Regions from separate parts of the Homo sapiens genome. Here regions 1 and 3 are each linked to region 2. Evidence: fine-mapped expression QTL. A gene starts in region 2. Each other region holds a variant in brackets. All regions are shown on one strand. Distances are from middle to middle. Region 1 overlaps TNKS2 (tankyrase 2). Region 2 holds the start of TNKS2-DT (TNKS2 divergent transcript). Region 3 overlaps LOC107984253 (a long non-coding RNA gene).

Region 1 (2,764 bases), 45 kb after region 2:
TGTTTTTCACATGCCTAGCATGGTGCAGACCCTACAAAAAAAAACAGGGATGGAAATACTCCTTTGGATCTTGTTAAAGATGGAGATACAGATATTCAAGATCTGCTTAGGGGAGATGCAGCTTTGCTAGATGCTGCCAAGAAGGGTTGTTTAGCCAGAGTGAAGAAGTTGTCTTCTCCTGATAATGTAAATTGCCGCGATACCCAAGGCAGACATTCAACACCTTTACATTTAGCAGGTAAGTGAATGAAGTTTCACAGATTTAGGCTGGTAATATCTGAGATTCATTTTACCCAGGTAAAATATTTTCTGTAACTAAACTTTAAAAATTCAAATCAGGCCAAGCATGGTGGCTCACACTTGTAATCCCAACACTTTATGAGGCTAAGGCAGGAGGATTGCTTGAGCCCAGGAATTTGAGAGCAGCCTGGGCAACATGGCAAAACCACACCTCTATAAAAAATTACAAAAATTAGCCAGGAGTGGTGGTGTGCACCTGTAGTCCCAGCTATTCAGGAGGCTGAGGTGGGAAGATTGAGCCCAGGAGGTCACGGATGCAATAAGCCTTGATTGTGCCACTGTACTCCAGAAACAAAGTGAGACCCTGTCTCAAAAAATAAAAAAAATAAATAAAAATTCAAATCAAGTATCTTCTAATGCCACCATTATACTCTTCAGTGTATTTGTACAGGACGACCGTACTTGAAGCTATTAGCTGAGTTCGAGTTCACTTTATTACTAGTATGTTACATTCAGTAAGAACAATTGAAGTAGGCTCTGCCAGTCCCCATGTGCTTTGGGAATCATTATTCCAGGTAATCATTTTATTGGTATCACCTTTGGTAAACAAGTTTTGAAAAATATGCCTACTTGAGCCAGCCTTCCTTATAGGAAGCTAAAGCTTTCTATTTTTCCTGATGGTAGCTGCTAAGCACAAGCAGGAAAAAAAAAAAATCTCAAAACTCTCAGAAGTTACATAAGCCTCTCACCAAAGTTATCTGTTGTTTTGGTTTGTGAGAGTTCTCATAACAAAATACCAAAGACCAGGTGGCTTAAACAACAGAAATTTGTTTTCTCACAGTTCTGGAGGCTAGGAGTCCAAGTTCAAGGTGTTGGCAGAGTTGGTTTCTTCTGAAACCCCCTCTTGGCTTGCAGCTGTCTACCTTCTCAGTGTGTCCTCCATTGGAACATGGTGTCTCTTTCTATATGTCCTAGTCTCTACTTTTAAGGAAACCAGTCAAATTAGATTAGAGCCCACCCTAATGGGCTCATTTTAACTTTTTTAGCTCTTTAAAGGCTCTGTCTCCAAATAGAGTCATATTCTAAGGTACTGGGGTTAGGGCTTCAACATAAGAATTTTGCAGGGTACAATTCATTTCGTGACATTTGTTTTAAGGTTTCACTCATAAAACTGGCACAGTGTACCTTTGTTTTCAGTGCAAATATACAATATATTGTGGTTTCAGTACAGCTTTTTCAGCTGCATTACAGATGTTAGGAAATCATTAAAATCACTGAGCTATAGCTAATACCTCAGTGGAGTTCCATCATAGACACAG[C/T]GGACTCATACAAGTTTGTCTAAATATACATGATTTAAACATGGTATAAAAAGCAAGAAAAAATAATGCAAAATTTCTGCCATTTCGTGTAATGTGGGAGATGGAAATGTATGATGTTCATTTCAGTCTTGTATTATAACTTGGTGTTATACATGATTTTTACCTTTAAATTCTCACTCCATGTAAGTTGAGACCTCACTGTCCAAAGAAACCAATTACTCTATGTGTCTTTCAAGTATTTTGGAAGTGATAAGCCACAAATGCTAACATGGTGAGAAAAAGCTTTACTTCCACTGGCTATCAGGAGTTTCTAGTCCATGCAAGACAAAATATGACTTGACCTTTGATTGGAAGTTGTGCTGTGCATATTTATGTTAGCTTTTATATCTTTCTTGTAGCCTATCTAGAACACTTAACATTACTGTGTCCAAGTTGTCTTTGTAAGTCACAAATAATTTGTATGCATAAAATATTTCTGTCCACTTCTGCAGCGTTAAATACCATACCTTGAGACCTAGAAAGACTTTTAGATTAATGTAATATTTTATGGTAGTTTTATAATTGTATTCTTCTTTACTTGATCTTTTTAAATTCTTTTGCTTTAAATCCTTTAGCAAAAGGATAAAAACTATAATAGAAATAAGTTTTATTTCATGGCTTTAACAGCACCTAAGTTCCTCTACTAGACTTGCAGAGATGTGTACCTCTGAGTTCTCTCTAGCAAAAAAGCATGCTCTTGTGGCCTTCTGGGGAAGAGGACTCTGAGGCCCACTCTGGTTTGACTTGTATGTGATTGCAGACCTTTGACTTGCAGCCTCTGAGACCCATGTACCTGAGTTCAAGAAGTGGTATGTAACACCCATGAAGGCAGAGACTTTGGTAGGAAGGTTTTCATAGGAAAGATACAAGCAAATCAGTCAATATAATTTTGGGAATCTACAAAGCTAATTGATAACACAAAAAGCTTCCAACTTGAGGCAAGGGGGAAATGTTTTCCAGAAGGTAAATTGTTAATAGAGTCCAATGAGCTATTTCAGATTTATACAAAATCTCTTTTTTTATGTTTTCAGTAATGTCTATGCCTTATAAATACATATATATATGTATACATGTAATGACTTTTTTATGTTAACAAGTGGAAGTATTATGACATAGGACTAAAAAAGAAAAAACAAGTAAAGTAATTTTACTTCTTTTCTAAATTA
Region 2 (2,764 bases):
TAAGGGAACAGATAGGCCCCAGGAGAGGGAGAGAGATGGCAGAGTAGCCTGTCAGTGGGGCAGTCAGAACATACACATTTATTGATTGATTGCTGTCTTCTATGGGTGTGGTTTGTGGTGCCTCAAAACAATTACAACAGTGATTTCAACTTATCACTGATCATAGATCACCATAGCAGATTTATGGGAAGAAAAATGATAAACGCAATCATATTGGTAGTGTTCTAGTCCTAGGTTCGTTCATGCATGTTCATGTTATTGATAAGCACCATAACTTCAATTTCATATGTATAAAAATGCTCAAAAAAGTGTACATCCTCTTTTAGCACTGTAGTGAGTCAACATTCCCCAACAAAAACTGGATTTCCTGAAAAACAGGTTAAGGTAGGAGGTTGGGGGGGGGATGCTTTTCAGAATGGCAAAGGTCAACATGTATCATCTTCTGTAAGTAAAATGTATGTATAGGCATACCTTTCTTTCAGTTTAAGACAAGGGGGTGTAGTGGGGAATTATCGTGTAAAACTACACCAGTATCTTAAGCATGAAAATCAATTATATGCTTTTCTTTTGTTTGTTGGTCAAAGAAAAAGATTATAACTCAGAAAACTTTCTTGGAGATGCGTATGCTCAGTGTATCCAAACTTTAGGCATGTCAGGTACAATATTGATTTACAAAAAGTTCCTCTAATCAATCCTGAGCTAATAACTTACTGTGGAAAGAGTAATTGATCAGAGCCATCCCTCCAATTGGAGTCAACTTCCATGACTGTTCGGATTTCCTTTATTTTGGGGGCAGTTCATCCAAACTTCTATTAAACGGCAACTAGTTCACTTTTGAGAAGTGGTTTACAAGAAACAACAACAACAACAACAAAGCAGTTGCGGAGGAAAGAAAAGAGACAAAGTAAAAAAAACGGAAAAGAAATCTCCCAGGAGAAAGGGATGTGGAAGCTGAAAACACGGACAATTTCCACAGTAAGACTTCCAAAAGAATGTGCAAGATCCGAGCAAAACTTTCAAGGGCTCTTTTTCAGTGTAATGGTAGTGAGAAAGTTCAGCCTGGAAAGCCCAGGGCTTAAAACAACAACAACAAAAAACACAATATGCAGGATCGTTCGGCTTCAGCAGAACCCACCGCAAAGATGGCGGTGGGACGAAGCCCCTTCTCCCGCCGCCGAAGCCTCTCGCCTCACATTTCCCACAAACCCTTCGCGCCGCCTCGCTAGCCGAAACCTGCCCAGCCGGTGCCCGGCCACTGCGCACGCGCGGGACGACGTCACGTGCGCTCCCGGGGCTGGACGGAGCTGGCAGGAGGGGCCTTGCCAGCTTCCGCCGCCGCGTCGTTTCAGGACCCGGACGGCGGATTCGCGCTGCCTCCGCCGCCGCGGGGCAGCCGGGGGGCAGGGAGCCCAGCGAGGGGCGCGCGTGGGCGCGGCCATGGGACTGCGCCGGATCCGGTGACAGCAGGGAGCCAAGCGGCCCGGGCCCTGAGCGCGTCTTCTCCGGGGGGCCTCGCCCTCCTGCTCGCGGGGCCGGGGCTCCTGCTCCGGTTGCTGGCGCTGTTGCTGGCTGTGGCGGCGGCCAGGATCATGTCGGGTCGCCGCTGCGCCGGCGGGGGAGCGGCCTGCGCGAGCGCCGCGGCCGAGGCCGTGGAGCCGGCCGCCCGAGAGCTGTTCGAGGCGTGCCGCAACGGGGACGTGGAACGAGTCAAGAGGCTGGTGACGCCTGAGAAGGTGAACAGCCGCGACACGGCGGGCAGGAAATCCACCCCGCTGCACTTCGCCGCAGGTAACCGGGGCCAGCGTCCCCTCGCCTCGCTCCAGACCCCACCTGCGCAGCCGGGGCCCACAGGTCTGAAACCAGTGCTCCTCCGCCTCCCGACCTTTCTCCAGGACTCTGGTCCTGGTGATCTCGCTCTCTTCCAGTGGGGACTAAGGAGATTAGGGGTAGGGTGAGCGTGCCACACTCGCTGGAAGTTTTTTGTTTTGTCTTGGTTTGGTTTTTTTGCCAGGTGTTGGGGGTGGTTTGGGGTTTTGGCTTTGTTTTGTTTTACAGTATCAACAATACCTGTACCAACTTCCGGTCTTGTTACCCTAGAAGGCCTCTACACACAAGAAAGAGTAGGGGACGTAGTTGATAGACCTTATGATTTAAAAGGTCAGTTACCTCCAAAATTTTTCGTTCTTGCAAGTTCCATTTGGGTTAAGGTCTTGAAGGACTTTGTAAAATACAAGGATGTAATTTAGGAGGAGTAGCTTAATAGGACGTTGACACATTAGCGTTAATTGGTTTATCAGAATAGCCAATCATTACCAAGTTTCTGGAGTGACTAGAACGGGAAATAGGCAAGTTTGGGAGAACTGAAACCTGACTTAGGCTGGGTGCGGGAAGCCTTAGACACACACACATACAAGTTGGGCGGAAAGTGGTAGTATAAGAGAAAAGATAGTGCAAGTACTTTAGCTTGAATCTAGAATTTAAGTTGGGACTAACCTTGCTTCATTCTGAAATTTAGATCGTTTGAATTACATTATTTTAATATTTATTAGGTTCACTTTATGATTTAAGCATATTAAATTTAGTCGAAAAATTTAAAAGAGCCATAGATGGGATATTCAGCTTATTCCCATAAAGCATGCATGCTGTTCACTTGTAGGAAAGATGATGACTGTTTCTAACTTCAGGTGAGTCATGCGTGATTGAAAATGGGAGTACCTCCTCTTACCTCTGACAATCCTGGTTTTTTGTTTTGTGTATTTCATGA
Region 3 (2,764 bases), 110 kb before region 2:
GATGTTCATCAAAAATTTAATGCTCATTAACCTCTAAAGAAAAAGGAAAAGAGAAAGAGATGAGTAAGCATTTGGAATCTTGCTCCACCCAGAACAGAGCTGATGCCACTAGATGTGAGTCCCTCACAGGGCAACAACATCCTCTTTTCTAGAATTCTATCTCCCAGACCCAGTTCCACACCTGCTCATAGTCATTGCCAAGAAAGGATTCTTGAGCAAATGAATAAAGAAGTGAATGGATGAATGCCTATACTGCCTACACCCTGACCACCTTGATCTTGTTGCTCTGGGGCCAGATGAGTAGTTAGAATCTCTCATATTTCCTTACCCTCAAGGGAGGTGCCTCCTGATTCTACTGTGGCTCTTCAGAAACTCTTCCCAGCATGAGGCCCTCACTCCAGACTCTTGACAGCTGAAAGAGAATTGTCCTAAGCAGTGAATCTCAAACTTTAGCATGTATCCGAATCACCTGGAGTGCTTTTTAAAACATAGACTTGGAGTACTTTTTTTTGAGATGGAGTTTTGCTGTTGTTGCCCAGGCTGGAGTACAGTGGTGCCATCTCGGCTCACCAAAACCTCCGCCTCCTGGGTTCAAGCAATTCTCCTACCTCAACCACCCTAGTAGCTGGGATTACAGGCATCCACCACCTCATCCAGCTAATTTTTGTATTTTTAGTAGAGACAGGGTTTCACCATGTTGGCCAGTTGGTCTTGAACTCCTGACCTTAGGTGATCCACCCACCTCGGCCTCCGAAAGTGTGGGGATTACAGGCGTGAGCCACTGCACCCAGCCCTGGAGTGCTTTTTAAAACATAGATTTCTGGGCCCACTCTGGAGTCTCTGGTTTAGTAGGTTTGGACCAAGAATTTGCATTTCTAACAATTTACTGGTCCTGGGAACACACCCTAAGAAACACTGTCCTGTTATTTTTTGACTGTTTAACAAAATCCATGAGGCTGTGGAGAGAAAGGGGGACATTGATACACTCTTGGTAGGAATGTAAATTAGTCCAGCCACTGTGGAGAGCAATTTAGAGATTTCTCAAAGAACTAAGAGTTGAACTACCATTTGACCCAGCAACACCGTTCCTGGATGTATACCGAAAGGAAAATATATTGTTCTACCAAAAGGACACATGCATTCATATGTTCATCACAGCACTATTTACAATAGCAAAAATTTGGAATCAACCCAGGTATCCATCAAGAGTGACTGGATAACAAAAACGTGATACATGTACACCATGTACTACAGCCATACAAAAACAATGAAATCACGTCCTTTGCAGCAACATGGATGCAGCTAGAGGCCACTAACCTAAGTGAACTGAGGCAGAAATGGAAAAGCAAATACTGCATGTTTCACTTATAGGTGACAGCTAAACATTGGGTACTAATAAAGTGGTAACAGTGGACACTGGAGACTACTAGTGAAGAGAGGGGAGAGAGGGAGGGGAGCAAGGGCTGAAAAACTACCTGAAAAAAAACCATAGT[G/A]GTACTATGTCCACTACCTGCGTGATGGGTTCAGTCATATCCCAAACCTCAGCATCATGCAATATACCTTTGTAGGCCAGGCACGGTGGCTCATGCCTGTAATCCCAGCACTTTGGGAGGCCAAGGCGGGTGGATCACCTGAGGTCAGGAGTTCGAGACCAGCCTGGCCAACATTGTGAAACCCCCAAGACACAAAAATTAGCTGGGCGTAGTGGCATGCACCTGTAATCCCAGGTACTTGGGAGGCTGAGGCAGGAGAATCGCTTGAACCTGGGAGGTGGAGGTTGTAGTGAGCTGAGATCGTGCCACTGCACTCTAGCCTGGGCAACAGAGCAACACTCTGTCTCAAAAAAAATAAAAAATTTTATATATATATATATATATACACACATATATATATGTGTACATATATATGTATACATATATATGTATACACCTTGTTACAAAGGTATATATATATACACCTTTGTAACAAACCTGCACATGTACCCCCTAACTCTCAAATAAAAGTTAAAAACAAAGCACTGTTCTAAAGCATGGCTTTGATTGCATCATCCACTGCTTAAAAATCTCAGAGAGTTCCTTTTAAAAGTCCATGAACTAAAGCTACTAAATAAAGTCCTCACTCCTTAGTCTCAGGCCCTTCCAACACAGCCCAGTCCAACTTTCTAGCCTCATTTCCTGCCACTCCCCTCCATTCTCTCTAACCACACTGGGCTGCTTTCCCTTTTAGGGACTCTCCAGTGGCCCTGCCTCTGCACTGTTCCCCAGGCCTGCAGTGCTCTTTTCTCCTTCCCTCCTGATCAAGTCCTAGTCATCCTTGAAGATCTGATCCAAATGTCATCCTCTGTGTCACTTTCTCCAAGTCCCTCCAGGCATGCTGTGTGGCCAGAACATACCGTACACAGCCTTGCTATCACCCTTGTGCGTTGGCATTGTCTGTTACATGTCTATTATGTTACTAGATTGTCTTTGCCCCTCCAGCCATGACCATGCTATTTATTTTCATTTGATGCTCCAAGCCCAGCACAAGGCTTGCCAAAAGGGGCAATTTAGCACACATATGATAAATAAGTGAATTCCAGACTGTGGTTGCCCCAGTTGATATCTGTTGCCTGCTCCACACATGTTTACTGTATTAATCAACTATTGCTATAATAATGGTGCACAGCAAAACACACACACATACACATCCAATCTCCAACAATGAACATTTATTTTTCTCACTCAGCTAGGGCAGCTCTGCTTCAGGCAGCAATTTGGCTGAGCCT

What was found.
Region 1: its variant is fine-mapped to the expression of TNKS2-DT in whole blood (INTERVAL, PIP above 0.99).
Region 3: its variant is fine-mapped to the expression of TNKS2-DT in whole blood (TOPMed, PIP 0.97).

What each region holds. Positions count from the first base shown.
Region 1 is chr10:91,842,154-91,844,917 of GRCh38, forward strand. TNKS2 (tankyrase 2) reads left to right here. Exons shown (of 27, transcript NM_025235.4): 16 at 19-238. Among named protein-coding and RNA genes, the nearest start is that of TNKS2, 45 kb to the left of the region's middle. The variant C/T (reference allele first, on the strand shown) is at 1,560.
Region 2 is chr10:91,797,102-91,799,865 of GRCh38, forward strand. TNKS2-DT (TNKS2 divergent transcript) reads right to left here and starts at 1,190. Exons shown (of 2, transcript NR_108071.1): 1 at 1,136-1,190. It overlaps TNKS2 (tankyrase 2), which reads left to right and starts at 1,325. Exons shown (of 27, transcript NM_025235.4): 1 at 1,325-1,788. The coding sequence starts at 1,590. RefSeq lists an enhancer at 1,034-1,203 and a silencer at 1,284-1,693.
Region 3 is chr10:91,687,746-91,690,509 of GRCh38, forward strand. It overlaps LOC107984253 (a long non-coding RNA gene), which reads right to left. Exons shown (of 4, transcript XR_001747550.1): 2 at 329-412; 3 at 1-33. Among named protein-coding and RNA genes, the nearest start is that of PPP1R3C, 56 kb to the left of the region's middle. The variant G/A (reference allele first, on the strand shown) is at 1,494.